Linked DNA regions of Homo sapiens: regions 2, 3 and 4 are each linked to region 1. Evidence: fine-mapped expression QTL. A gene starts in region 1. Each other region holds a variant in brackets. All regions are shown on one strand. Distances are from middle to middle. Region 1 holds the start of ZNF586 (zinc finger protein 586). Region 2 has its middle 6.3 kb from the start of ZNF776. Region 3 has its middle 4.1 kb from the start of ZNF671. Region 4 holds the start of ZNF587B (zinc finger protein 587B).

Evidence for each region. PIP is the estimated chance that this variant, and not a neighbour inherited with it, causes the effect.
Region 2: its variant is the best candidate, but not a certain one, in a credible set for the expression of ZNF586 in whole blood (Lepik 2017, PIP 0.90).
Region 3: its variant is the best candidate, but not a certain one, in a credible set for the expression of ZNF586 in T cells (TOPMed, PIP 0.67).
Region 4: its variant is the best candidate, but not a certain one, in a credible set for the expression of ZNF586 in whole blood (TOPMed, PIP 0.87).

The regions. Positions count from the first base shown.
Region 1 is chr19:57,766,038-57,772,238 of GRCh38, forward strand. ZNF586 (zinc finger protein 586) reads left to right here and starts at 3,639. Exons shown (of 3, transcript NM_017652.4): 1 at 3,639-3,841. The coding sequence starts at 3,806. RefSeq lists enhancers at 3,363-3,902, 3,624-3,873.
Region 2 is chr19:57,737,416-57,743,616 of GRCh38, forward strand. No RefSeq gene overlaps it. Among named protein-coding and RNA genes, the nearest start is that of ZNF776, 6.3 kb to the right of the region's middle. The variant G/A (reference allele first, on the strand shown) is at 2,685.
Region 3 is chr19:57,728,669-57,734,869 of GRCh38, forward strand. No RefSeq gene overlaps it. Among named protein-coding and RNA genes, the nearest start is that of ZNF671, 4.1 kb to the left of the region's middle. The variant C/T (reference allele first, on the strand shown) is at 2,673.
Region 4 is chr19:57,827,481-57,833,681 of GRCh38, forward strand. It overlaps ZNF587B (zinc finger protein 587B), which reads left to right and starts at 2,819. Exons shown (of 3, transcript NM_001376223.1): 1 at 2,819-3,084. The coding sequence starts at 3,049. The variant A/G (reference allele first, on the strand shown) is at 3,163.

The sequences.
Region 1 (6,201 bases):
GTAGTGGTGCAATCTTGGCTCACTGCAACCTCCTCCTCCCGGGTTCAAGCAATTCTCCTGCCTCAGCCTCCCGAGTAGCTGGGATTACAGGCGCTCGCCACCACCCCCGGCTAATTTATTTATTTATTTATTTTTTAGATGGAGTCTCGCTCTGGCTGGAGTGCAGTGGCGCAAACTCGGCTCACTGCAAGCTCCGCCTCCCGGGTTCACGCCATTCTCCTGCCTCAGCCTCCCGAGTAGCTGGGACTACAGGCACCCGCCACGGCGCCCAGCTAATTTTTTGTATTTTTAGTACAGACGGGGTTTCACCGTGGTCTCTATCTCCCGACCTCATGATCTGCCCACCTCGGCCTCCCAAAGTGCTGGGATTAAAGGCATGAGCCACCATGCCTGGCCAATTTTTGTATTTTTAGTAGAGACAGGTTTTCACCATGTTGGTCAGGCTGGTCTCGAACTCCTGACCTCATGATCCGCCCCCCCACCCCCCACCCCCCCACTGTCCCCCAAAGTGCTAGGATTACAGGCATGAGCCACTGTGCCTGGCCAGTGAGGTTACTTAACCTCCCCCAGATATCTAATTAAACATGGCTCTCAAGTTTCTGATCATTTAGAAGCCATCCGATTATCAAAAAAGAATGTTTTATTAACGTTCCTGAACATTCAAACTCACCTCTCCAAAGAGTAAAAAAAAATTATTTCGCAGATGCAGCAGCAAAAAGACTCTCTTGACACCAATATCACATGAAACTATAAAAGTCACTACATTCAAAATAAGTGCCATTGAACAGGAACTCCAAGGGATTCAAAAAGAGGCTTCAGATAAGAAAAAGTAGATATGGCTAACAAAGCGGTAATGCTTTTCCCCCATTTACAAATTTTGGTGTGGACCCAACAGGAGACCCATCTTGCCTTTGAGATTTCAATTTCTTATGGTACAACATGTTTATGAGCCAACTCACGGGAAATCTGAGAAAATGATTGTTTGGGGAAAGAAATACTACTGGAAACCCTCACCTCCATTACTGAATAAAGTTTACACTAAATATCCAATTTAATTTATACAAAGCATAATCCAAGAAAGCTTTTTTTTTTTTTTTTTTTTGAAACGGAGCCTCACTCTGTCCTCTGTCACCCCGGCTGGAGTGCAGTGGCGCGATCTTGGCTCACTGCAGCCTCCGCCTCCTGGGTTCAAGTGATTCTCCTGCCTCAGCCTCCTGAGTAGCTGGGATTACAGGCATGCGCCACCACACCCAGCTAATTTTTCTATTTTCAGTAGAGACGGGGTTTCACTATGTTGGTGAGGCTGGTCTCGAATTCCTGACCTCGTGATCCGCCCACCTCTGCCTCCCAAAGTCCTGGGATTACAGGCATGAGCCACCGCACCCGGCCAACTTTTTTGTTTGTTTGTTTGTTTGTTTGTTTGAGACGGAGTCTCGCTCTGTCCCCCAGCCTGGAGTGCAGTGGCGTGATCTCGGCTCACTGCAACCTCCGCCTCCCGGGTTCAAGCCATTCTCCTGCCTCAGGCTCCGGAGTAGCTGGGACTACAGGCGCCTGCCACCACGCCCAGCTAATTTTTTTGTATTTTTAGTAGAGACGGGGTTTCATCATATTAGCCAGGATGGTCTCGATCTCCTGACCTCGTGATCCGCCCGCCTCGGCCTCCCAAAGTGCTGGGATTACAGGTGTGAGCCACCGCGCCCAGCCAACTTTTTTTTTAAGTATAGAAAATTTTACAGGTTGGGCGCGGTGGCAGGCGCCTATAATCCCAGCTGCTCGGGGGGCTGAGACAGGAAAATCACTTGAACTTGGCCAAGAGGCGGAGGTTGCAGTGAGCCGAGATCGCAGCAATGCACTCCAGCCTGGGTGACAGAGCGAGACTCCATCTCAAAAAAAAAAAAAAAAAAAGAGGTGGAGATTTCCCAGAACTGAGGTTCCCTCCCCTTTTTAGACTATATAGGGTAACTTCCAAACATTGCCAGGGCATTGGTATACTGTCATGGCGCTGGCGGGAGTTAGTATGCTAATGCATTATAATTAGCGTATAATGAGCAGTGAGGATGACCACAGGTCACTTTCATCACCATCTTGGTTTTGGTGCGTTTTAGCCAGCTTCTTTACTGCATCCTGTTTTATCAGCAGGGTCTTTGTGACCTGCATCTTGTGCCAACCTCCTATCTCATCCTGTGACTAAGAATGCCTAACCTGGGAATGCAGCCGAGTATTTCTCAGCCTTACTTTATCCAGCCCATTTTCAAGATGGAGTCACTCTGATTCCAATGCCACTGACAATGATAAGCACTTGCCAGCAAAGAGGTGAACGCATGGATTTAAGGCACTTGAAATATCTCAGTGTAAAAGCACCCTGTGCATGTAGCAGGACGAGCCGCAGACAAAACCTCTCAGACACCGAGTTGCAGAAGGAAGGGCTTTATTCAGCTGGGAGCATTGGCCAGCTACTGTCTCAAAATCTGAGCTCCCGGAGTGCACAATTTCTGTCCCTTTTAAGGGCTCACAACACTAAAGATTTCACATGAAAGGGTCGTGATTGATTTGAGCAAGCAAGGGGTATGTGACAGGGGCTGCATGCACCGGTGGTCAGGGAGGAACAGAACAGGGCAGGGAGTTTCACAATGTTCTTCTATACAATCTAAGGAATCTATGAATAACATCGGCTTCTAAATCATAAGTTGATTTTTAACTACTGGGTTTAGGCCAGGCGGGCCTAGGCCTGGTTTCGGGCCTGGCGCGGGGTTGCCTGTCTTTGGTTTTACTTCCTTGTTGTTTTTACTGAATATAAAACAATGTGAGAGGGTCTCTCTCTTCTCTCATGCATACATACTCCATGTTTGAACACCGCAGCCATTGTCCTGTAACATAATAGCATTTGTCTCATTAGCTTTTTGATGTTGATATCAGATTTCTAGAGGAATCTGTAGGTTAAAGATATAAATAAAAGTGTTGCTAATGGGCTGAGAACGGTGGTTCACGCCTGTAATCCTAGCACTTCGGTAGACCATTGCAGGCAGATCACTTGAGGCCAGAAGTTCGAGACCAGCCTGGCCAAAATGAGGAAACCCCGTCTCTACTAAAAATACAAAAATTAGCAGGGTATGGTGGCACACGCCTGTAATCCCAGCTACTCGGATGGTTGAGGCACGAGAATCGCTTGAACCCGGGAGGCATAGGCTGCAGTGAGCCAAGATCACACCACTGCACCCCAGCCTGAGTGACAGAGAGAACTATGTCTTAAAAAAAAGACAAAAAAAAAAAAAAAAGGAAGAAGCCGAGCATCACAAATTCTGAAATAAGAAGTCTCCAAACACGCGGGCAATCAGTTGCACACAGTACCCCCAGAAATGTGCGTATGGCCTCTTCTAAGATGGGAGACCCTCCTCCGCATCTGGACCTGGAGTCGCCATTTCCTAGCGCCCCTCGCAGTGGAGCTTGCCCCTTTCTTCGGAAAGTCGGAAGAAAGCCACCTTAAGCGCTGCCCATGTCTGGGAACTACATTACCCAGAATCCGCCCTGCGAAATGGTAACGTGGCTGAGCCAATGAAGCTTCAGAGAAGCCGTGCCATTGCCGGGGCACGTAAAGTCAAGCCAGGACTTCCGGCGTCCTAGCCGTGGCAGCCATTTTGGCCTGTCAGGTCCATCCGGCGATGCTGGGTCTGGACGAGCTCGGGAGGAGTGGTTGTGGCCATTGCACACAGGCGGATCTGAGGTTCGGCGACGCCGCTGGTCGCGACCCGGGACAGGACAACGACAGGAACACCGCCGAGCCCGCGTTCCCCCCCCGCCCAGAGTCATGGCGGCAGCAGCCGCTCTGAGGGCGCCTGCTCAGGTGAGCGCTGCGACCTCCGGGCCTTACCCACCCTACCCACCCAGACCCTGAGGCCCCTGATCGTGAGGGCCGCCTCCTCGCGTCCCTGCAGCCCAGGCCTCTGTCAGGGACGGAGAGGCGCCGGCGGGTGGGATCCCTGTTTCCGACACCCAGTTGATGCGGTCGGCAGAGCGAGACTGGCGGAGGGCAAAGGCCTGCAGGCGCGACTGAGGCAGGAGGATGCGGAACACGGGGACATCGTGTGTCTACTGGGAAAGAAGTGTGATACGGAGTTATTTCTTTTTTTTTTTTTTTTTGAGACGGAGTCTCACTCTGTCGCCCAGGCTGGAGTGCAGTGGCGCGATCTCGGCTCACTGCAAGCTCCACCTCCCCGGTTCAAGCGATTCTCCTGCCTCAGCCTCCCGAGTAGCTGGGATTACAGGCATGCGCCACCACGGGGTTTCACCATGTTGGCTAGGCTGGCCTCGAACTCCTGACCTTAGGTGATCCGCCCACCTCGGCCTCCCAAAGTGCTGGGAATACAGGCGTGAGCCACCGCGCCTGGCCGAGGCGGAGTTGTTTCTTCAGTACCAGGCTGAGGGTTGAACTTTGACTGTGAGGACGCTAAAAGCCATGGACAGTTTTGAACAAAGGAGGAAATCTGTGTTAGAGTTGCGATTCCCAAAAGATGTTCGAAGGAAGAACAGAGTTGAAGGCAGTGATGAGGACATTGAGAGGTTGAATCATTGAGAGGTGACATTGAGCACTGGGCCACAAGATTAGAGACTCAGTCTGAAGTCATCTGGCTGCAGGGCCAAAAAAAGCTTACAGAGAAGCCTGAGTCTATCAAATCCGAGCACAGACACATTTGTGAAAGCCCTGCCTTTTGGCACACCTCATGGCTACAGAAGCACTTACAGAATCCACAGTAGGAAGTAGGGGATGCTCTAGTCCTTCACTGGTCCTCATCCTATCCCACATGTCTAGATCTTGGCATCTTTTTTTTTTTTCGGCGACGGGTTCTCACTCAACACCCAGGCTGGGTTGCGGTGACGCGATCACGGCGCAGCACGGCCTCGACCTCTCCGGGCTCAGGAGAGCCTCTCATCTCAGTCTCCCGAGTAACTGGCTTTTTGTATTTTTAGTAGAGGTGGGGTTTCACGGCCGGGCGCGGTGGCTCACGCCTGTAATCCTAGCACTTTGGGAGGCCGAGGCGGGCGGATCACGAGGTCAGGAGTTTGAGACCATCCTGGCTAACACGGTGAAATCCCCCCTCTACTAAAAATACAAAAAATTAGCCAGGCCTGGTGGCACACACCTGTAGTCCCAACTACTTGGGAGGCTGAGGCAGGAGAATCGCTTGAACCCGGGAGGCAGAGGTTGCAGTGAGCCGAGATCGCGCCACTGCACTCCAGCCTGGGCGACAGAGAAAGACTCCGTCTGAAAAAAAAAAAAAAAAGAGAGAGAGAGAGATGGGGTTTCGCCATGTTGCCCAGGCTAGTCTCGAACCCTTGGGCTCAAGCAGTCCTCTTGCTTCGGCTTCCCAAAGTGCTGGGATGCCAAGCAGGAACTACCGCACCTCCTAGGACACTTAAGTGCCATTTCTCCGGTCCTTCAATCTGGGGATCTTGGAAAAACCTCAAACCCCAAACCTACATCAGTGACATAGGTTATGGGGAGTTGTTGCTATGTCTGTCAACTAATGTAACACATGTGGAGGGTTCACCCAGGAACTGATACTGGGGTGTGCAAATACTTACTTAGAAGTGAAACTAGAGGGGTGAGGTGATGTTACCAATTTCTTAATAGGCGCTGTCTGGTTACTGAGTGGGCAACAGACTGTGGGGTTGAGGGAGGAGGAAGATCAAACTGGAAGCTACTGCCCTAGTCGAGGTGAGGATTAATGGACTAGAGTTGTGGCTTAGGCAATGTGGCTAGATCTGGATTTGTGTTTTTTAGAGGGGCAAGTCAATTTTTTTTTTCCCAAGATGGAGTCTGGACCTGTTGCCCAGGCTGGAGTGCAATAGTGGAATCTTGGCTCACTGCAACCTCCGCCTCCTGAGTTCAAGCGATTCTCCTGCCTCAGCCTCCGAAGTAGCTGGGATTACAGGCGCGCGCCTCCACACCCAGCTAATTTTTGTATTTTTAGTAGAGACTAGGTTTCGCCATATTATCCAGGCTGCCTCGAACTCCTGACCTCGTGATCCACCCGCCTTGGCCTCCCAAAGTGCTGGGATTACAGGCTTGAGCCACCGTGCCCAGCCTGGCAACTCAATTTTTAAATGTGAACAGTGAGAGCTTGAGAGGATTCAGGAAACACCCCTGGGTTTTTTATCTTAGCAGCTGTAGCAATGGGAGCTGCATCAACTGAGATGAGCAAG
Region 2 (6,201 bases), 29 kb before region 1:
CCACCACGCCTGGCTAATTTTTTTGTATTTTAGTGGATACTGGGTTTCACCATGTTGACTAGGATGGTCTCGATGGCCTGACCCCGTGATCCGCCCGCCTCGGGCTCCCAAAGTGCTGGTATTACAGGCGTGAGCCACCACGCCTGGCCGGAGTACTTGTTTTTCAATACCACAGGAGCTATGAGCTGGTCCTCCATTTTGTATCAAAGAATGTGTCCCCAGGTGACAAGATGCAGATTCCAAGACATTGAATCAATATGATGCCACCATCGCTTTCTTTCTGTTCTATGACATCTTTCTAGTCTTACCTTACTATTTCCTTGGCTCTCAGTTGGTTTTTCCTGAGTTCTCAGAAATTGAAATAATACACACTTTGTAGAAATAAGAATTTCATGTTAGTCAAGTCTCTAGGATAGCCATGGGCTCCACTTAATTATCTCAGAACTTACAGCCCCATGTCCTCTGCTCACTATCCATTGAGATTTATGTGTTCTCAGACTTCACAGAAACTTTTCTAGCTACTTATGTCATTCTCAGTGGTAACTTCATTTATCCACAATATTAACTAATTTTCTCAGTCCAAGCTGTTTTCCAGAGGTAATCTCCAGTCCCCATGCCGAAACTATCATTGTACTTACTGCTGAAATGATAGTTCCTTCCCAGCAAGAAGGTGAGATTATTGTACCCAGAATCTTTTCTCAGGGTTCAAATATCCACTTTCCCCATGGCAGGAATGCTGACACTCCAGCCACGGTTTTGTAAATGTGAATTAGTAAATACCAACTATTCCCAGGTGAGTGTTGTGGGCAGCAAGCTACCCAGGTGCTGAGGCAAGAGACCGAGGGCATGAGCCATTCCAGTATAATAAAATATATAAAACAACAAGAGTTATACTAGATCTAGATCATAGATGTAATTATATATGAATATCATTAATCATTAGTTTGTAGCAATTACTCTTTATTCCAGTATTATAATAATACTCGCTCTATAATCATAACCTAGAAAAAACCAGGCCATACAGAGATAGGAGCTGAGGGGACACAGTGAGAAGTGACCAGAAGACAAGAGTGCGAGCCTTCTGTTATGTCCAGACAGGGCCACCAGAGGGCTCCTTGGTCTAGCGGTGATGCCAGCATCTGGGAAGTCTGGTCTAGCGGTAGCCTTAGTGTCAAGGAAAAACAACCGCTACTTAGCGGACCGGGAAAGGGAGTCTCCCTTTTCCCCGGGGGGAGTTTAGAGAAGACTCTGCTCCTCCGTCTCTTGTGGAGGGCCTGACATCAGTCAGGCCCACCCGCAGTTATCCGGAGGCCTAACCATCTCCCTGTGATGCTGTGCTTCAGTGGTCACGCTCCTAGTCCACCTTCATGTTCCATCCTGTACACCTGGCTCTGCCTTCTAGATAACAGTAGCAAAATTAGTGAAAGTACTAAAAGTCTCTGATATGCAGAAATAATGGTGTAAGCTGTCTCTCTCTCTCCCTCTCTCTCTCTGCCTTGGCTGCCAGGCAGAGAAGGGCCCCGCGTCCAGTGGACACATGACCCACATGACCTTACCTATCATTGGAGATGACTCACACTCTTTGCCCTGCCTCTTTTGCTTTGTATCCAATAAATAACAGTGCAGCTAGACATTCAGGGCCACTACCAGTCTCCGCGCATTGGTGGTAGTGGTCCCCCGGGCCCAGCTGCCTTTTCTCTTATCTCTTTGTCTTGTGTCTTTATTTCTACACTCTCTCGTCACCGCACACAGGGAGAGACCCACCGACCCTGTGGGGCTGGTCCCTACAGAGTGTTACAATCAGAAGGAACCAGTTCTGCTCTGAGGTTGAGACATACTCTGAGGGACCTGGAGACATGGTGCAACCTCCTCTCCTTGCCTTATGCCTCTCCTCTATATTTCCTCTGAAACCTTCTTTGAATATTCTTCCTTCCATTACTGACTGAAAATATTAAGCCTCACAAAGTCCACTGTAAGATCTTTACCAGTGGGAAATGAAGAAGACTGTTTAAAGTATTTGAGTGGCCATTTAGTGTCTTTATAACATTTTTTGGTTATGCATTTTTGTCTTTTTGGGGGCATGATTTGCAAATTGAGTCTCTGGTATTTTACTAACTTGTGTTTGATGAGTGAAAGAGTTAATACTTCCTCTCCCATTAGTGAAAGGAAAGACACTTCAGAAACATGAATAAAAGATTGTAAATTGGAAATAGTAAGGTAATCAGATATGTAAAGAATCTAGGCCAGGCGTGGTGGCTCACGCCTGTAATCCCAGCATGTCAAGTGATTCTCCTGCCTCCACCTCTCTAGTAGCTGGAATTACAGGCACCTGCCACTACGCCCAGTGAATTTTTGTATTTTTAGTAGAGACAAGGTTTCACCATGTTGGTCATGCTGGTCTAGAACTCCTGACCTCTGGTGATCCACCCACCTCGGCCTCCCAAAGTGCTGAGATTACAGGCATGAGCCACAGCGCCCAGCTTCCTGACATCGCTTAATGCATAATCTCTTCACAGGGTATTTCCAAAGTCCAAGGGCTCTTTCATAACACCTACAACTGGTTCCATCAGAAATGTTTAAAGCATAACAAAATATGTTATCATCGTCCATTTTTTCTATTGTCTCAAAAATATCTTTGTTCTTTAAGCAGCTTCATTGCAATGAAATTCCCAAATGTGGGCGTG[G/A]TGGCTCACGCCTGTGGTCCCAGCACTTTGGGAGGCTGAGGCGGGTGGATCATCTGAGGTTGGGATTTTGAGACCAGCCTGGCCAACATGGTGAAACTCTGTCTCTACTAAATACAAAAATTAAAAAAAAAAAAGAAAGAAATTCCCAAATTTATCCCCATGACTTTTAGTAGTTCTGTCTCATATATCTCTATTAATCTACAGGTATGACTTTCCTTTTTAAAATTCCTTTTTTGTGCGGGGTGTGGGACAGGGTCTTACTCTGTCACCCAGGCTGGAGTGCTGTGACACAATTACAGCTAACTGCAGCCTGGACCTCCCTGGGCTAGGTGATCCTCCCACCTCTGCCTCCCAAGTAGCTGGGACTACAGGCAAGCACCACCATGCCTGGCTAAGCTTTTATTTTTTATTTTTTGTAGAGACTGGGTTTCACAATGTTGCCCAGGCTGGTCTCAGACTCCTGGGCTCAAGCAATCCACCTGCTTTGGCCTCCCAAAGTGCTGGGATTACATACATAACCACAATGCCTGGCCTTAAATTTTATTTTATTTTTTTATTTTTTTTGAGACGGAGTCTCTCTCTGTCACCCAGGCTGGAGTGCAATGGTGCAATCTTGGCTCACTGCAACCTCCGCCTCTCAGGTTTAAGCAGTTCTCTGCCACAGCCTCCCAAGTAGCTGGGATTACAGGCGCCCACCACCACGCCCGGCTAATTTTTGTATTTTTAGTAGAGACGGGGTTTCACCATCTTGGCCAGGCTGGTCTTGAACTCCTGACCTCATGATCCACCCGTCTTGGCCTCCAAAAGTGCTGGGATTAGAGGCGTGAGCCACCGCGCCTGGCCAAAATTTTATTTATTTCTTGAAATTGTGTAATTTTTGTATTAGAATTTATTATACTCTAATTTTTTGTGCATATCTCTGATATGATTTAAGTTGTTTACACATGTATAAGCCATAAGCAAACTAGATATTCTTGAAATGGGTGATTCAGGGGTAGTCCCACATAAGTGTGTGATTATGACACAGCCAGAAACACACAGTTGGATTACATTCTCCCAGCATGCTGTGGTACAGTCTGGAAGCAAAAATTTCAAAGAGTGTATGCTCCTGGTGTGTGACAAGTGCCTGAGGGTTATACTGCAGCACAGCCTATAGACAAAACACATATCCCAGGGACCCTGTGTGACAGGTGTGCAGTATTTAAAGACCTCAGTCCGGCAGGGCACGGTGGCTCACGCCTGTAATCCCAACGCTTTGGGAGGCCGAGGTGGGTGGATCACGAGGTCAAGAGTTTGAGACCAGCCTGGCCAACATGGAGAAATCCTGTCTTTACTAAAAATACAAAAATTAGCCATGGGTTGCGCTCACCTGTAGTCCGAGCTATGCGGGAGGCTGATACAGGAGAGTTGCTTGAACCAGGGAGGCGGAGGTTGCAGTGAGCCAAGATCATGCCACCACAGTCCAGTCTGGGGAAAAGAGTGACCCTGTCTCAAAAAAAAAAAAAAAAATCTCAGTCCATCCTAGAGGTGCCCCTGTTATACCTATAGGACTCTGTGTAAGAGGCATTGGGTACTGGCACCTATTGACAGCCTGAGCCGACATAAATATATACCACACTGACAACAAACCCAAGAGGGAGAGATGTGATCCACACAACCAGCATATTCAGAACCCCAAGGGGCTGTTAGACAGAATGGAGGTGGGGTCATACTGGCCACACAGAAGCACAAATGCTACTCAGAGACTTGGGCTTTTAAATTTGCTGATTACAAAGGTTTAGTGGGAGCATAAGCAGGGTATAATCAAGAAAATTTTACTCCACAATAGATAGAAATATACCTTCCAGTGTGTGTAGTCATAATATAATTGGAACACACAATTTTAAACTTCTAGACATTACTGTAGAGTCCTATGTTGATTAAGAATCATCACAGATATTTCTAGAAAGAAGAAAGCAAAATATTACTGATAGTGAAGATGAAATATGCCTATATAACTTGCTGTCATGCAAGGTAACATTTAGGTATTGAGATTCTTTACATCCCTGATTACATTGCCATTTGTAATTTATAATCTTTTATTTACATTTCTAAAGCATCTTGCTTTTATGTGCCTATATATCATGCTGTCATACAAGATAACATTTAGAGGCCAGGCATGGTGGCTCATGCCTGTAATCCCAGAACATTGGGAGGCTGAGGCAGGTGGATCACCTGAGATCAGGAGTTTGAGACCAGCCTGACCAACATGGAGAAGCCCTGTCTCTACTAAAAATACAAAGTTAGCCAGCTACTAGGGAGGCTGAGGCAGGAGAATCACTTGAATCCAGGAGGCAGAGGTTGCAGTGAGCTGACATGGTGCTATTGCACTCCAGCCTGACAACAAGAGCAAGAAACTCCGTCTCAAAAATAACAAAAATGAGAGATATCAGGATTATAAGTAAAACAGCATAGTAATACACTTAAGAATAGATAATCGGTCAGATGTGGTGGCTCATGCCTGTAATCCCTGCACTTTGGAGAGCCGAGGTGGATGGATCACCTGAGGTTGGGAGTTGGAGACCAGCCTGACCCTTTTTTTTTTCTAGTAGAGACAGGAGAAACCCTATCTCTACTAAAAAAAAAAAAAAAAAAAAAAAAACACACACAACCAAATTAGCCGGGCGTGGTGGCACATGCCTATAATTCCATCTACTCGGGAGGCTGAGGCAGGAGAATTGCTTGAACCTGGGAGGCAGAGGTTGTGTTGAGCCAGGATTGTGCCATAGCACTTCACGCTGGGCAGCAAGAGCAAAACTCCGTCTCAAAGAAAAAAAAAAAAAAAAAATTAGCCGGGCGTAATGGCACTGTAATCCCAGCTGCTTGGGAGGCTGAGCCCTGAGAATTGCTTGAACCCAGGAGGTGGAGGTTGCAGTAAGCTGAGATTGCCTCACTGCACTCCAGCCTGGGCGACACAGCAAGACTCTGTCTCAAAAAAAAAAAAAAAAAAGCCGGGCGCAGTGGCTCACGCCTGTAATCCCAGCACTTTGGGAGGCCGAGGCGGGCAGATCATGAGGTCAGGAGATCGAAACCATCTCGGCTAACACAGTGAAACCCCATCTCTACTAAAAATACAAAAACTTAGCCGGGTGTGGTGGCGGGCGCCTGTAGTCCCAGCTACTCGGGAGGCTGAGGAGAATGGCATGAACCCGGGAGGCTGAGCTTGCAGTGAGCGAAGATCACGCCACTTCCTCCAGCCTGGGTCACAGAGCGAGATTCCGTCTCAAAAAAAAAAAAAAAAAAACAAACCACCATGCAATGATAAATAATAATGGATCATTGAGGAAGAATTCATGGGACTTCATTACATAGTCCTTTGTATTTGTGTATATATTTGGAAAAATCCATTACAAAAGGTACAATATGTTCTTGCATCAATAACTTTATACAGGCATACTTTGGAGATAGAACAGGTCAATTTTTTTTTTTTTTTTTTGAGATGGAGTCTCACTGTGTTGCCCAGGCTGGAGTGCAGTGG
Region 3 (6,201 bases), 37 kb before region 1:
TTTGAAGATAATGAAAGAAATTGCTCTAAGGAAATATCTGTGATAGATGGACAAAGTTAAGATCTCAGTAAAGTTTGAGCCTGAATACTAAAGTATAAGTGAAAGAATGAAGTTAAGCATATGGTTGTGTTGTGATCTTGACCACACTTTGTCAACAAAATGTGACTCTTTTTTCCTGAAAATGCTGAGCAATTGTAAAGAAGATATCAGAATGGTAAAAATCAACAGTGAAGTTGTGCTGTCTTGATAATTCACTGTTAAAATACACATCCAAGGAACACATACGAGCTCTCAGTAGGTGTTTTTCAAATGTGTTAGTAGCATGAAAGACATCACTAATAAAATTTCCAAGATTCCTATACATACAGGACATGTCCTGCATATAATGATTTTTGTCCTGCATCACCTTTTGACTTTGTCACAATACCCTAAATAAATATTCTAAAGAAGGCAACAGTCTTAAAGAAAAGAATTTTCAACCCGGAATTTCATATCCAGCCAAACTAAGCTTCATAAGTGAAGGAGAAATAAAATACTTTACAGACAAGCAAATGCTGAGAGATTTTGTCACCACCAGGCCTGCCCTAAAAGAGCTCCTGAAGGAAGCACTAAACATGGAAAGGAACAACTGGTACCAGCCACTGCAAAAACATGCCAAATTGTAAAGACCATCAAGGCTAGGAAGAAACTGCATCAACTAATGAGCAAAATAACCAGCTAACATCATAATGACAGGATCAAATTCACACATAACAATACTAACCTTAAATGTAAATGGGCTCAATGCTCCAATTAAAAGGCACAGACTGGCAAATTGGATAAACAGTCAAGACCCATCTGTGTGCTGTATTCAGGAAACCCATCTCACATGCAGAGACACACATAGGCTCAAAATAAAGGGATGGAGGAAGATCTACCAAGCAAATGGAAAACAAAAAAAGGCAGGGGTTGCAATACTACTCTCGGATAAAACAGACTTTAAACCAACAAAGATCAAAAGAGACAAAGAAGGCCATTACATAATGGTAAAGGGATCAATTCAACAAGAAGAACTAACTATCCTAAATATATATGCACCCAATACGGGAGCACCCAGATTCATAAAGCGAGTCCTTAGTGACCTACAAAGAGACTTAAACTCCCACACAATAATAATGGGAGACTTTAACACCCCACTGTCAACATTAGACGGATCAACAAGACAGAAAGTTAACAAGGATATCGAGGAATTGAACTCAGCTCTGCACCAAGCGGACCTAATAGACATCTACAGAACTCTCCACCCCAAATCAACAGAATATACATTTTTTTTCAGCACCACACTACACCTATTCCAAAATTGACCACATAGTTGGAAGTAAAGCACTCCTCCGCAAATGTAAAAGAACAGAAATTATAACAAACTGTCTCTCAGACCACAGTGCAATCAAACTAGAACTCAGGATTAAGAAACTCATTCAAAACCACTTAACTACATGGAAACTGAACAACCTGCTCCTGAATGACTACTAGGTACATAACGAAATGAAGGCAGAAATAAAGATGTTCTTTGAAACCAACGATAACAAAGACACAACATACCACAATCCTGGGACACGTCCAAAGCAGTGTGTAGAGGGAAATTTATAGCACTAAATGCCCACCAGAGAAAGCAGGAAAGATCTAAAATTGACACCCTAACATCCAATTAAAAGAACTAGAGAAGCAAGAGCAAACACATTCAAAAGCTAGCAGAAGGCAAGAAATAACTAAGATCAGAGCAGAACTGAAGGAAATAGAGACACAAAAAACCCTTCAAAAAATCAATGAATCCAGGAGCTGGTTTTTTGAAAAGATCAACAAAATTGATAGACCACTAGCACGACTAATAAAGAAGAAAAGAGAGAAGAATCAAATAGATGCAATAAAAAAAGACAAAGGGGATAACAGCACCCATCCCACAGAAATACAAACTACCATCAGAGAATACTATAAACACCTCTACGCAAATAAACTAGAAAATCTAGAAGAAATGGACAAATTCCTCGACACATACACTCTCCCAAGACTAAACCAGGAAGAAGTTGAATCTCTGAATAGACCAGGCTCTGAAATTGAGGCAATAATTAATAGCTTACCAACCAAAAAAAGTCCAGGACCAGATGGATTCACAGCCGAATTCTACCAGAGGTACAAGGAGGAGCTGGTGCCATTCCTTCTGAAACTATTCCAATCAATAGAAAAAGAGGGAATCCTCCCTAACTCATTTTATGAGGCCAGCATCATCCTGATACCAAAGCCTGGCAGAGATGCAACAAAAAAAGAGAATTTTAGACCAATATCCTTGATTAACATTGATGCAAAAATCCTCAATAAAATACTGGCAAACCGAATCCAGCAACACATCAAAAAGCTTATCCACCATGATCAAGTGGGCTTCATCCCAGGGGTGCAAGGGTGGTTCAACATACGAAAATCAATAAACGTAATCCAGCATATAAACAGAACCAAAGACAAAAACCACAGGATTATCTCAATGGATGCAGAAAAGGCCTTTGACAGAATTCAACAACCCTTCATGCTAAAAACTCTCAATAAATTAGATATTGATGGTAACGTATCTCAAAATAATAAGAGCTATCTATGACAAACCCACAGCCAATATCATACTGAATGGACAAAAACTGGAAGCA[C/T]TCCCTTTGAAAACTGGCACAAGACAGGGATGCCCTCTCTCACCACTCCTATTCAACATAGTGTTGGAAGTTCTGGCCAGGGCAATCAGGCAGGAGAAGGAAATAAAGGGCATTCAATCAGGAAAAGAGGAAGTCAAATTGTCCCTGTTTGCAGATGACATGATTGCATATCTAGAAAACCCCATCGTCTCAGCCCAAAATCTCCTTAAGCTGATAAGCAACTTCAACAAAGTCTCAGGATACAAAATCAATGTGCAAAAATCACAAGCATTCTTATGCACCAATAACAGACAAACAGAAAGCCAAATCATGAGTGAACTCCCATTCACAATTGCTTCAAAGAGAATAAAATACCTAGGAATCCAACTTACAAGGGATGTGAAGGACCTCTTCAAGGAGAGCTACAAACCACTGCTCAATGAAATAAAAGAGGATACAAACAAATGGAAGAACATTCCATGCTCATGGGTAGGAAGAATCAATATCGTGAAAATGGCCATACTGCCCAAGGTAATTTATAGATTCAATGCCATCCCCATCAAGCTACCAATGACTTTCTTCACAGAATTGGAAAAAACTACCTTAAAGTTCATATGGAACCAAAAAAGAGCCCGCATTGCCAAGTCAATCCTAAGCCAAAAGAACAAAGCTGGAGGCATCATGCTACCTGACTTCAAACTATACTACAAGGCTGCAGTAACCAAAACAGCATGGTAGTGGTACCAAAACAGAGATATAGACCAATGGAACAGAACAGAGCCCTCAGAAATAATGCCGCATATCTACAACTATCTGATCTTTGACAAACCTGAAAAAACAAACAATGGGGAAAGGATTCCCTATTTAATAAATGGTGCTGGGAAAACTGGCTAGCCATATGTAGAAAGCTGAAACTGGATCCCTTCCTTACATCTTATACAAAAATTAATTCAAGATGGATTAAAGACTTAAATGTTAGACCTAAAACCATAAAAACCCTAGAAGAAAACCTAGGTAATACCATTCAGGACATAGGCATGGGCAAGGACTTCATGTCTAAAACACCAAAAGCAATGGCAACAAAAGCCAAAATTGACAAATGGGATCTAATTAAGCTAAAGCACTTCTGCACAGCAAAAGAAACCACCATCAGAGTGAACAGGCAACCTACAGAATGGGAGAAAATTTTTACAACCTACTTATCTGACAAAGGGCTAATATCCAGAATCTACAATGAACTCAAACAAATTTATAAGAAAAAAAACAACCCCATCAAAAAGTGGGCAAAGGATATGAGCAGACACTTCTCAAAAGAAGATATTTATGCAGTCGAAAAACACATGAAAAAATGCTCATCATCACTGGCCATCAGAGAAATGCAAAACAAAACCACAATGAGATACCATCTGACACCAGTTAGAATGGCGATCATTAAAAAATCAGGAAACAACAGGTGCTGGAGAGGATGTGGAGAAATAGGAACACTTTTACATTGTTGGTGGGACTGTAAACTAGTTCAACCATTGTGGAAGTTGGTGTGGCGATTCCTCAGGGATCTAGAACTAGAAATACCATTTGACCCAGCCATCCCATTACTGGGTATATACCCAAAGGATTATAAATCATGCTGCTATAAAGACACATGCACGTGTATGTTTATTGTGGCACTATTCACAATAGCAAAAACTTGGAACCAACCCAAATGTCCAACAATGATAGACTGGATTAAGAAAATGTGGCACATATACACCATGGAATACTATGCAGCCATAAAAAATGATGAGTTCATGTCCTTTGTAGGGACATGGATGAAGCTGGAAACCATCATTCTCAGCAAACTATCACAAGGACAAAAAACCAAACACTGCATGTTCTCACTCATAGGTGGGAATTGAACAATGAGAACACATGGACACAGGAAGGGGAACATCACACACTGGGGCTTGTTGTGGGGTGGGGGGATGGGGGAGGGATAGCATTAGGTGATATAACTAATGCTAAATGATGAGTTACTGGGTGCAGCACACCAACATGGCACATGTATACATATGTAACAAACCTGCACGTTGTGCCCATGTACCCTAAAACTTAAAGTATAATAATAATTTTAAAAAAGTCTATTCAAAGGGATAATATCGAGAATTTCCCAAAGATATTAGGAAGGATTATCTTTCCAAGAGAAAGATATCAATATTCAAGTACAAGAAGGCCGTAGAATACCAAGCAGATTTAACCCAAAGAAGACTACCTCAAGACATTTAGTAATCAAATTACCAAAGGTCAAGGGTAAAGAAAGGATCCTAAAAGCAGCAAAAGAACAGAAACAACACACAAAGGAGCTCCAATATGCCTGGTAGAAGACTTCCCAGTATAAACCTTATAGGCCAGGAGAGAGTGGCATGATGGATTTAAAGTGCTGAAGGAAAAAACTTTTATCCTAGAATAGTGTATTTGCTGAAAGTATCCTTCAAACATGAAAGAGAAATAAAAACTCTTCTGGATGAACAAAAGCTGAAAGATTTTTGTCAACACCAGACTTGTCTTACAAGAAATGTTAAAGGGAGTTCTGCAATCTAAAAGGATGTTAATGAGCAACAAGAAATCATCTGAAGGCACGAAACTCACTGGTAATAGTAACTACACAGAAAAAAAAAACAATATAGTAGCAATGTAACTGTGATGTGTAAACTCATATCTTGAGTAGAAAGACTAAAATATGAACCTATCAAAAACAATTCCAACAAGTTTTCAAGACATAGACAGTACAATAAGATATACATAGAAACAAAAAATTTAAAAGCTGGGTGACATAGTTAAAGTGTAATGTTTTTATTAGTTTTTCTCTTGTTTGTTATTTGTTTATGGGATCAGTGTTGTCATCAGTTTAAAATAATGGGTTATAAGATATAGTTTACCATGGAAGCTTCATGGTAAACTAAATTCAAAAACCTACAACAGATACCAAAAAATTTTTTAAAAAGAAATTAAAATATACAACCAGAGAAAATCACCTTCACAATAAGGAAGACAGGAAGGAAGGAAAGAAGGAAGAGAAGACCACCAAACAACATGGCAGCAGTAAATCCTTACTTATTAATAAAACATTGAATATAAATGGACTAAAGTCTCCAATCAAAACACACAGAGTTGCTGAATGAATAAAAATAAAGACCCAATGCTCTATTGCATACAAGAAACACCCTTCACCTATAAAGACACACATAGATTAAAATAAAAGGATGGAAAAAGATATTTCATGCCACTGGAAACGACGAAATAGCAGGAATAACTACATGTATATCAGAAAAATAGATTTCAAGAGAAAAACTGTGAAAAGAGACAAAGTCATTATATATAATGCTAAAGGGATCAATTCAGCAAGAGGACATAATCTTTGTAAATATATATACACTCAACACTGGAGCACCCAGATATAAAAGTAAATATTATTAGAGCTAAAGAGACAGATAGAGTCTGACACAGTGATAGCTGAAGATGACAACACCCCACTTTCAGCATTGAACAGGCCTTCCAGACAGAAATGGACTTA
Region 4 (6,201 bases), 61 kb after region 1:
CCCCTGACCTAATCAGTAATGTTATACAGATTACAAACATTATATAGAAAAGCATTGTGAAAATCCCTGTCCTGTTCTGTTCCGTTCTAATTACCAGTGCATGCAGCCCCCAGTCATGTACCCCCTGCTTGCTCAATCGATCACGACCCTCTCACACAGACCCCCTTAGAGTTGTGAGCCCGTAAAAGGTACGAGAATTGCTCACCTGGGGAGCTCAGTTGTTGGAGATGTGAGTCTTGCCGAAGCTCCCAGCTGAATAAAGCCCTTCCTTCTTTAACTCGGTGTCTGAGGGGTTTAGTCTGCAGCTTGTCCTGCTATACCTACGATTTCATCTCCAACCCAACCAATCAGGACTGCCCACTTCATGGCCCCCTATCTACCAAATTATCCTTAAAAAACCCCAGTCTCATGAGGTGGAGGTTGCAGTGAACCGAGATCATGACCTTGCACTCCAGCCTGGGCAACAGGAGCAAAACTCCATCTCAAAAAAACAAACAAACAAATAAACAACAACAAAAAAACCCAGTCTCCAAGTTTTCAGGAAGACTGATTTGAGTAATATTAATAAGACTCCAGTCTGCTGTTCATCCAACTCTGTGTGAATCAAACTCTTTCTTTTACAATTCTCCTGTCCTGATAAATTGGCTCTATCTGGGCAGTGGGCAAAATGAACCCGCTGGGTGTTTACACATTCATTTTAACAATACAATAATGGTTATTAACCTTTGCATTAATCTCTGCTTCCAGTGGAAGAATTTTGCATCAAAGGACCACTTGAAATGATAGGTGAATTTAGATCTATAGCCTTTGGGAGCACCTACACTAACTCTGAAATAATATTTTTCCATACACTAGGGTAATCAGCTACAGCTAATAATTGCAAGAAATCTCAATAGGAGTTTTAAGGAAAGGCAGGATGATCCTCTGCCCAGTAGAAAGATCTGCAATCTTTTATTTATTTATTTATTTAATTTTATTTTTTTCCAATACAGAGTCTTGCTCTGTCGCCCAGGCTAGAGTGCAGTGGCACAATCTCAGCTCACCGCAACCTCTGACTCCTGGGTTCAGGAGATTCTCCTGCCTCAGCCTCCTGAGTAGCTGGGATTATATGCATATGCCATCATGCCAAGCTAATTTTTGTATTTTTAGTAGAGGCGGGGTTTCACCATGTTGGCCAGACTGGACTTGAACTCCTGACCTCAGGTGATCCACCCGCCTCAGCCTCCCAAAGTGCTGGGATTACAGGCGTGAGCCACCCACACCCAGCCCTTATTTTTATTTTTTAGAGAAGAGGTCTTGCTCTGTTGCCCAGGCTGGAGTGCAGTGGCACGATCTCGGCTTACCGCAGCTTCAAACTCCTGAGCTCAAGCGATTCTCCCTCCTTCAGGCTCCCTAACCCTAACCCCAACCTTGGGGCAGCTGGGACCACTGGCCTGCCTGACCTCACCCCACTAATATTTTTTATTTTTTGCAGAGACAGGATATGGGGAAAAGAAATCAGATTGTTACTGTGTCTATGTAGAAAAGGAAGCCATAAGAAACTCCATTTTGATCTGTATTAAGAAAAATTGTTCTGCTTTGAGATGCTGTTAATCTGTAACTTTAGCCCCAACCCTGTGCTCACAGAAACGTACTGTATTGAATCAAGGTTTAATGGATTTAGGGCTGTGCAGCATGTGCCTTGTTAACAATATGTTTGCAGGCAGTATGCTTGGTAAAAGTCATCGCCATTCTCCATTCTCTATTAACCAGGGACACAATGCACTGCGGAAAGCTGCAGGGACCTCTGCCTGAGAAAGCCTGGGTATTGTCCAAGGTTTCCCCCACTGAGACAGCCTGAGATATGGCCTCATGGGAAAGGAAAGACCTTACATCCCCCAGCCGGACACCCTTAAAGGGTCTGTGCTGAGGAGGAGGAGTGAAAGAGGGAGGCCTCTTTGCAGTTGAGATAAGAGTAAGGCTTCTGTCTCCTGCTCATTCCTGGGAATGGAATGTCATGGTGTAAAGCCAACCATTCCCATTCGTTGTATTCTGAAATAGGAGAAAACTACCCTGTGGCTAGAAGCGAGATATGCTGGCAGCAATACTGCTCTGTTGCTCTTTGCTACACTGAGATGTTTGTTTAAAGTGAAACATAAATCTGGCCTATGTGCACATCCACGCACAGTACCTTTCATTGAACTTATTCATGATACAGATTCCTTTGCTCACGTGTTTCCCTGCTGACCTTCTCCCCACCATCACCCTGTTGCCCTGCCACACTCCCCTCACCAAGAGAGTAAAAATAATGATCAATAAATACTGAGGGAACTCAGAGACCGGCGCCGGTGAAGGTCCTCACATGCTGAATGTGCCAGTCCCCTGGGCCCACTATTCTTTCTCTATACTTTTTCTCTGTGTCTAATTTCTTTTCTCAGTCTCTCGTCTCCACCTGATGAGAGATACCCATAGGTATGGAGGGGCAGGCCCCCTTCAAACAGGATTTTGCTTTGTTGCTCAGGCTAATCTCTAACTCTTGGCCTCAAATGATCCTTCTGACTTGGCCTCCCAAACTGGTGGAATTACAGGAGCTAGCCACCATACCAGTCAGGGCGCATATCTTAAGGATACTCCTGAGGTGGAGCTGGGCTTTTCCTGCAGAACCGCCTCTGGGAATTGTGCCCTTTACCCTCCTTGTTACCTAGGGAACTACATTACCCAGAAAACTCCGCATGGAATGACAGAGTGGAAGAGCCATGGGGGCTCAGAATAAAGGCATTTCCTGTGTGCACGTGACAATGGGTCCGGACTTCCGGCGCCCTCTGGTGGCGGCCATTTTGATTGGTGTTGGGTTTATTTGTCGGAGAGGCTCCTGAGCGCTAGGTCGGCACTGCGGTGACTGAACCCAGAAGGCGGAGAACAGTTGTCCTCTGCTGCACAGAGGCGACTCTGGAGCTCTGTGACGGCGCCAAGCGTGACCCACCCCTGGGCCAGGATAGGGACCGTCATGCCCATATCTCCTGGCTGGTCACCCTCTCCTCCCAACCCTGCTTTAAACCACGTGGTTCGATGGCGGTGGTGGCCACGCTGAGGCTCTCTGCTCAGGTAATTGTGGTGCCTTCCATGCCCTCAGGTCACCTCATCATCACCCAAAAGCCTGTAGTCTTGCAAGGAAGAGTCTTT[A/G]AGGTGGCAGAGCCATAGGCAGCAGATGCTGAGTTTTTATTAGGAGTGACTGTCAGGACAGCCCTTTTGAGCTGCTGAAGGCCTAATCTTTTATAGTCACTGTACCTGAGCGAGTTAGAGAAAACGCCACACTTTGAGACGAATTAAGAGTCCGTTTATTTAAAAAAAAATCCGTTTATTTAGCCGGCGGCCAAGAGATGGGTAACGCTCAAAGTTCTCGCGGCCCCAAAGAAGGGGCTAGATTTTCTTTTATACTTTGGTTTAGAAAGGGGAGGGGGGGTCTAGTTAAAACAATTTTACAGAAGTAAAGTAGGCAAGAAAAGTTAAAAGGATAAATGGTTACAGGAAAGTAAACAGTTCCAGGTGCAGGGGCTTTAAGACTATTAGAAGGTGATAGATGGGGGGCTTTGGGCGTTATCAATCAGACGAATTCCTGGGAACTGCGGATATAGCTCGCCACAGTATCTTATCAGTTAATTGCATTCTTGGATGTGCTGGGAGTCAGCTTGCACAAGTTAAGTCCTTGAGGAAGGGGCTGCCAGTGAAAGAGCCAAGATGGAGTCTGTCTGGCTCTCTTATGTAAGGGAGAGTCAATTCAGGTGGAAACAAGTCTAGGTGATTAAAGGAAAGGGAGAATCTAAAAACAGGGTTAGTAAAAACAAGGTTGGGCATTACATCACAGAATCCTCTAGTGAGAACTGATAGTGGAACAGTGTGCTCGTTGGTGACCTTACCTCGTTAGATGCAGTCTTTATTTTTTATTTTTTTGAGACGGAGTTTCACTCTTGTTGCCCAGGCTGGATGCAATGGCGTGATCTCGGCTCACCGCAATCTCCGCCTCCTGGGTTCAAGCGATTCTCCTGCCTCAGCCTCCCGAGTAGGTGTCATTACAGGCATGCGCCACTGCACCTGGCTAATTTTTTGTATGTTTAGTAGAGATGGAGTTTCTCCATGTAGGTCAGGCTGGTCTCGAACACCTGATCTCAGGTGATTCACCTGCCTCGGCCTCCCAAAGTGCTGGGGTTACAGGCGCGAGCCACCGAGCCCAGCTTATTTTATTTATTTATTTTTTTTTTTTTTGAGACAGAGTCTCAGTCTGTCACCCAGCCTGGAGTACAGTGGCGTGATCTCGGCTCACTGCAACCTCCGCCTGCCGGGTTCAAGCGATTCTCCTGCTTCAGCCTCCCAAGTAGCTGGGATTACAGACACCCGCCACCATGCCCGGCTAATTTTTTGTATTTTTAGTAGAGACGGGGTTTCGCCATGTTGCCTAGCCTGGTTTCGAACTCCCGAGCTCAGGCAATACGCTCGCCTCGGCCTCCGAAAGTGCTGGGATTACAGACGTGAGCCACCGTGCCTGGCTGTCTTTATTTTTTTATTTGTTTACTAAACAAAACATCTTACCCTTTATAGCAGAGTGCCCTGTGAAATACAAATTGTCTTTTTCTTTTTGTTTTTTTTTGAGACAGAGTCTCGCTCTATCGCCCAGACTGGAGCGCAGTGGCACGATCTCGGCTCACTGCAAGCTCCACCTCCCGGGTTCATGCCATTCTCCTGCCTCAGCCTCCCGAGTAGCTGGGACTACAGGCATGCACTACTATGCCCGGCTTATTTTTGCATTTGTAGTAGAGACGGGGTTCCGCCATGTTGGCCAGAATGGTCTCAATCTCTTGACATTGTGATCCGCCCGCCTTGGCCTCCCAAAGTGTTGGGATTACAGGCGTGAGCCACTGTGCCCGGCCAATTCTATTTAATTATTTTAATTTCTTTGCTGAATTTATCTGATAGAATTCTGAATTTTTTCTCCGTGTTTGTCTTGAATTTCTTTGAATTTCCTCAAAATAGCTATCTTGAATTATCTGTCTGAAAGGTCACGTATCTCTGTTTCTCCAGGATTCGTCTTTGGTGCTTTATTTAGTTTGTTTGGTGAGGTCACGTTTTCCTGGATGGTGTTGATGCTTGTAGATATTCGTCAGTGTCTGGGCATTAAACAGTTAGGTGTTTATTGTGGTCTTCACAGTCTGGGCTCATTTGTACCTGTCCTTCTTAGGAAGAGTTTCCAGGTATTTGAAAGGACCCGGGTGTTGTGATCTAAGCTGAATCTACTTTAGCGGGAACCCCACACTCAGTAATGCTGTGACTCTTGCAGACTCAGAGAGCTGTACCACCTTTGTGGTCTTGAATAAGATCTGAAAGATTTCCCTTGATTAACATAACAGGTAGAGACTCTTGTTGGGTCTTCCCTCACTTTGTCCCAGCATGTCTCTGTCAGTGCTGAAGTGCCTGAAACTGGGGGTTGGGACAGAAGCACCCCTTTAGCTACCACCACTGGGACTGTGCTGGGTGAGAGCTGAAGCCAGCACAGCACTGGGTTTCACCCAAGGCTCCTGTGACCACTACATGGCTATCGCCTGTGTTCCCTCAAGGCCCTAGCCCTGTACAGTCAGCAGGTGGCAAAGCCAGACAGGCTTATGTCCTTCTCCTTAGGACGGTGAGTTCCCCAGGCCTCAGGTTGGTATACAGATGCCATCCATGAGCCAGGGATTGGAGTAAAAATCCTTAGAAATCTACCTGGTGTTCCTTTGCACTGCAGCTGAGCTGGCACTCAAACTACAAGCTAGAGCCCTTCCCACTCTTCCATCCCCTTTCCACAGGCAGAGCAGCCTCACTCTGTGGCCACCACCAGCACGGGCCCACAGGGAGTGCTGTCAGACTACCACTGAGGTTCCATTAAGGGCTAAGAGCTCTTCAGTCAGCTTGTGGTGAATGTTGCCTGGTCTGAGGCTGACTCTTCAAGACTCACCCAGGGCAGGTCCAGCAATGTCATCCACGAGCCAAGGCCTGGAATCAGGGACCCCAAGAGGCTTCTTGGTGCTCTATCCCTCTGTGGTTGAGCTGGCAGCTGAGGTGCAAGACAAGGTCCCCTTTACTTTTTCCTCTGTTATTCTCAAGCAGGTGGGGTCTCTGACCGTAACCACCACAGCTGGCAGTGTGCTGTGTTACATCTGAAGCTGGCATGTCTCAGAGTCTCACCCAGTG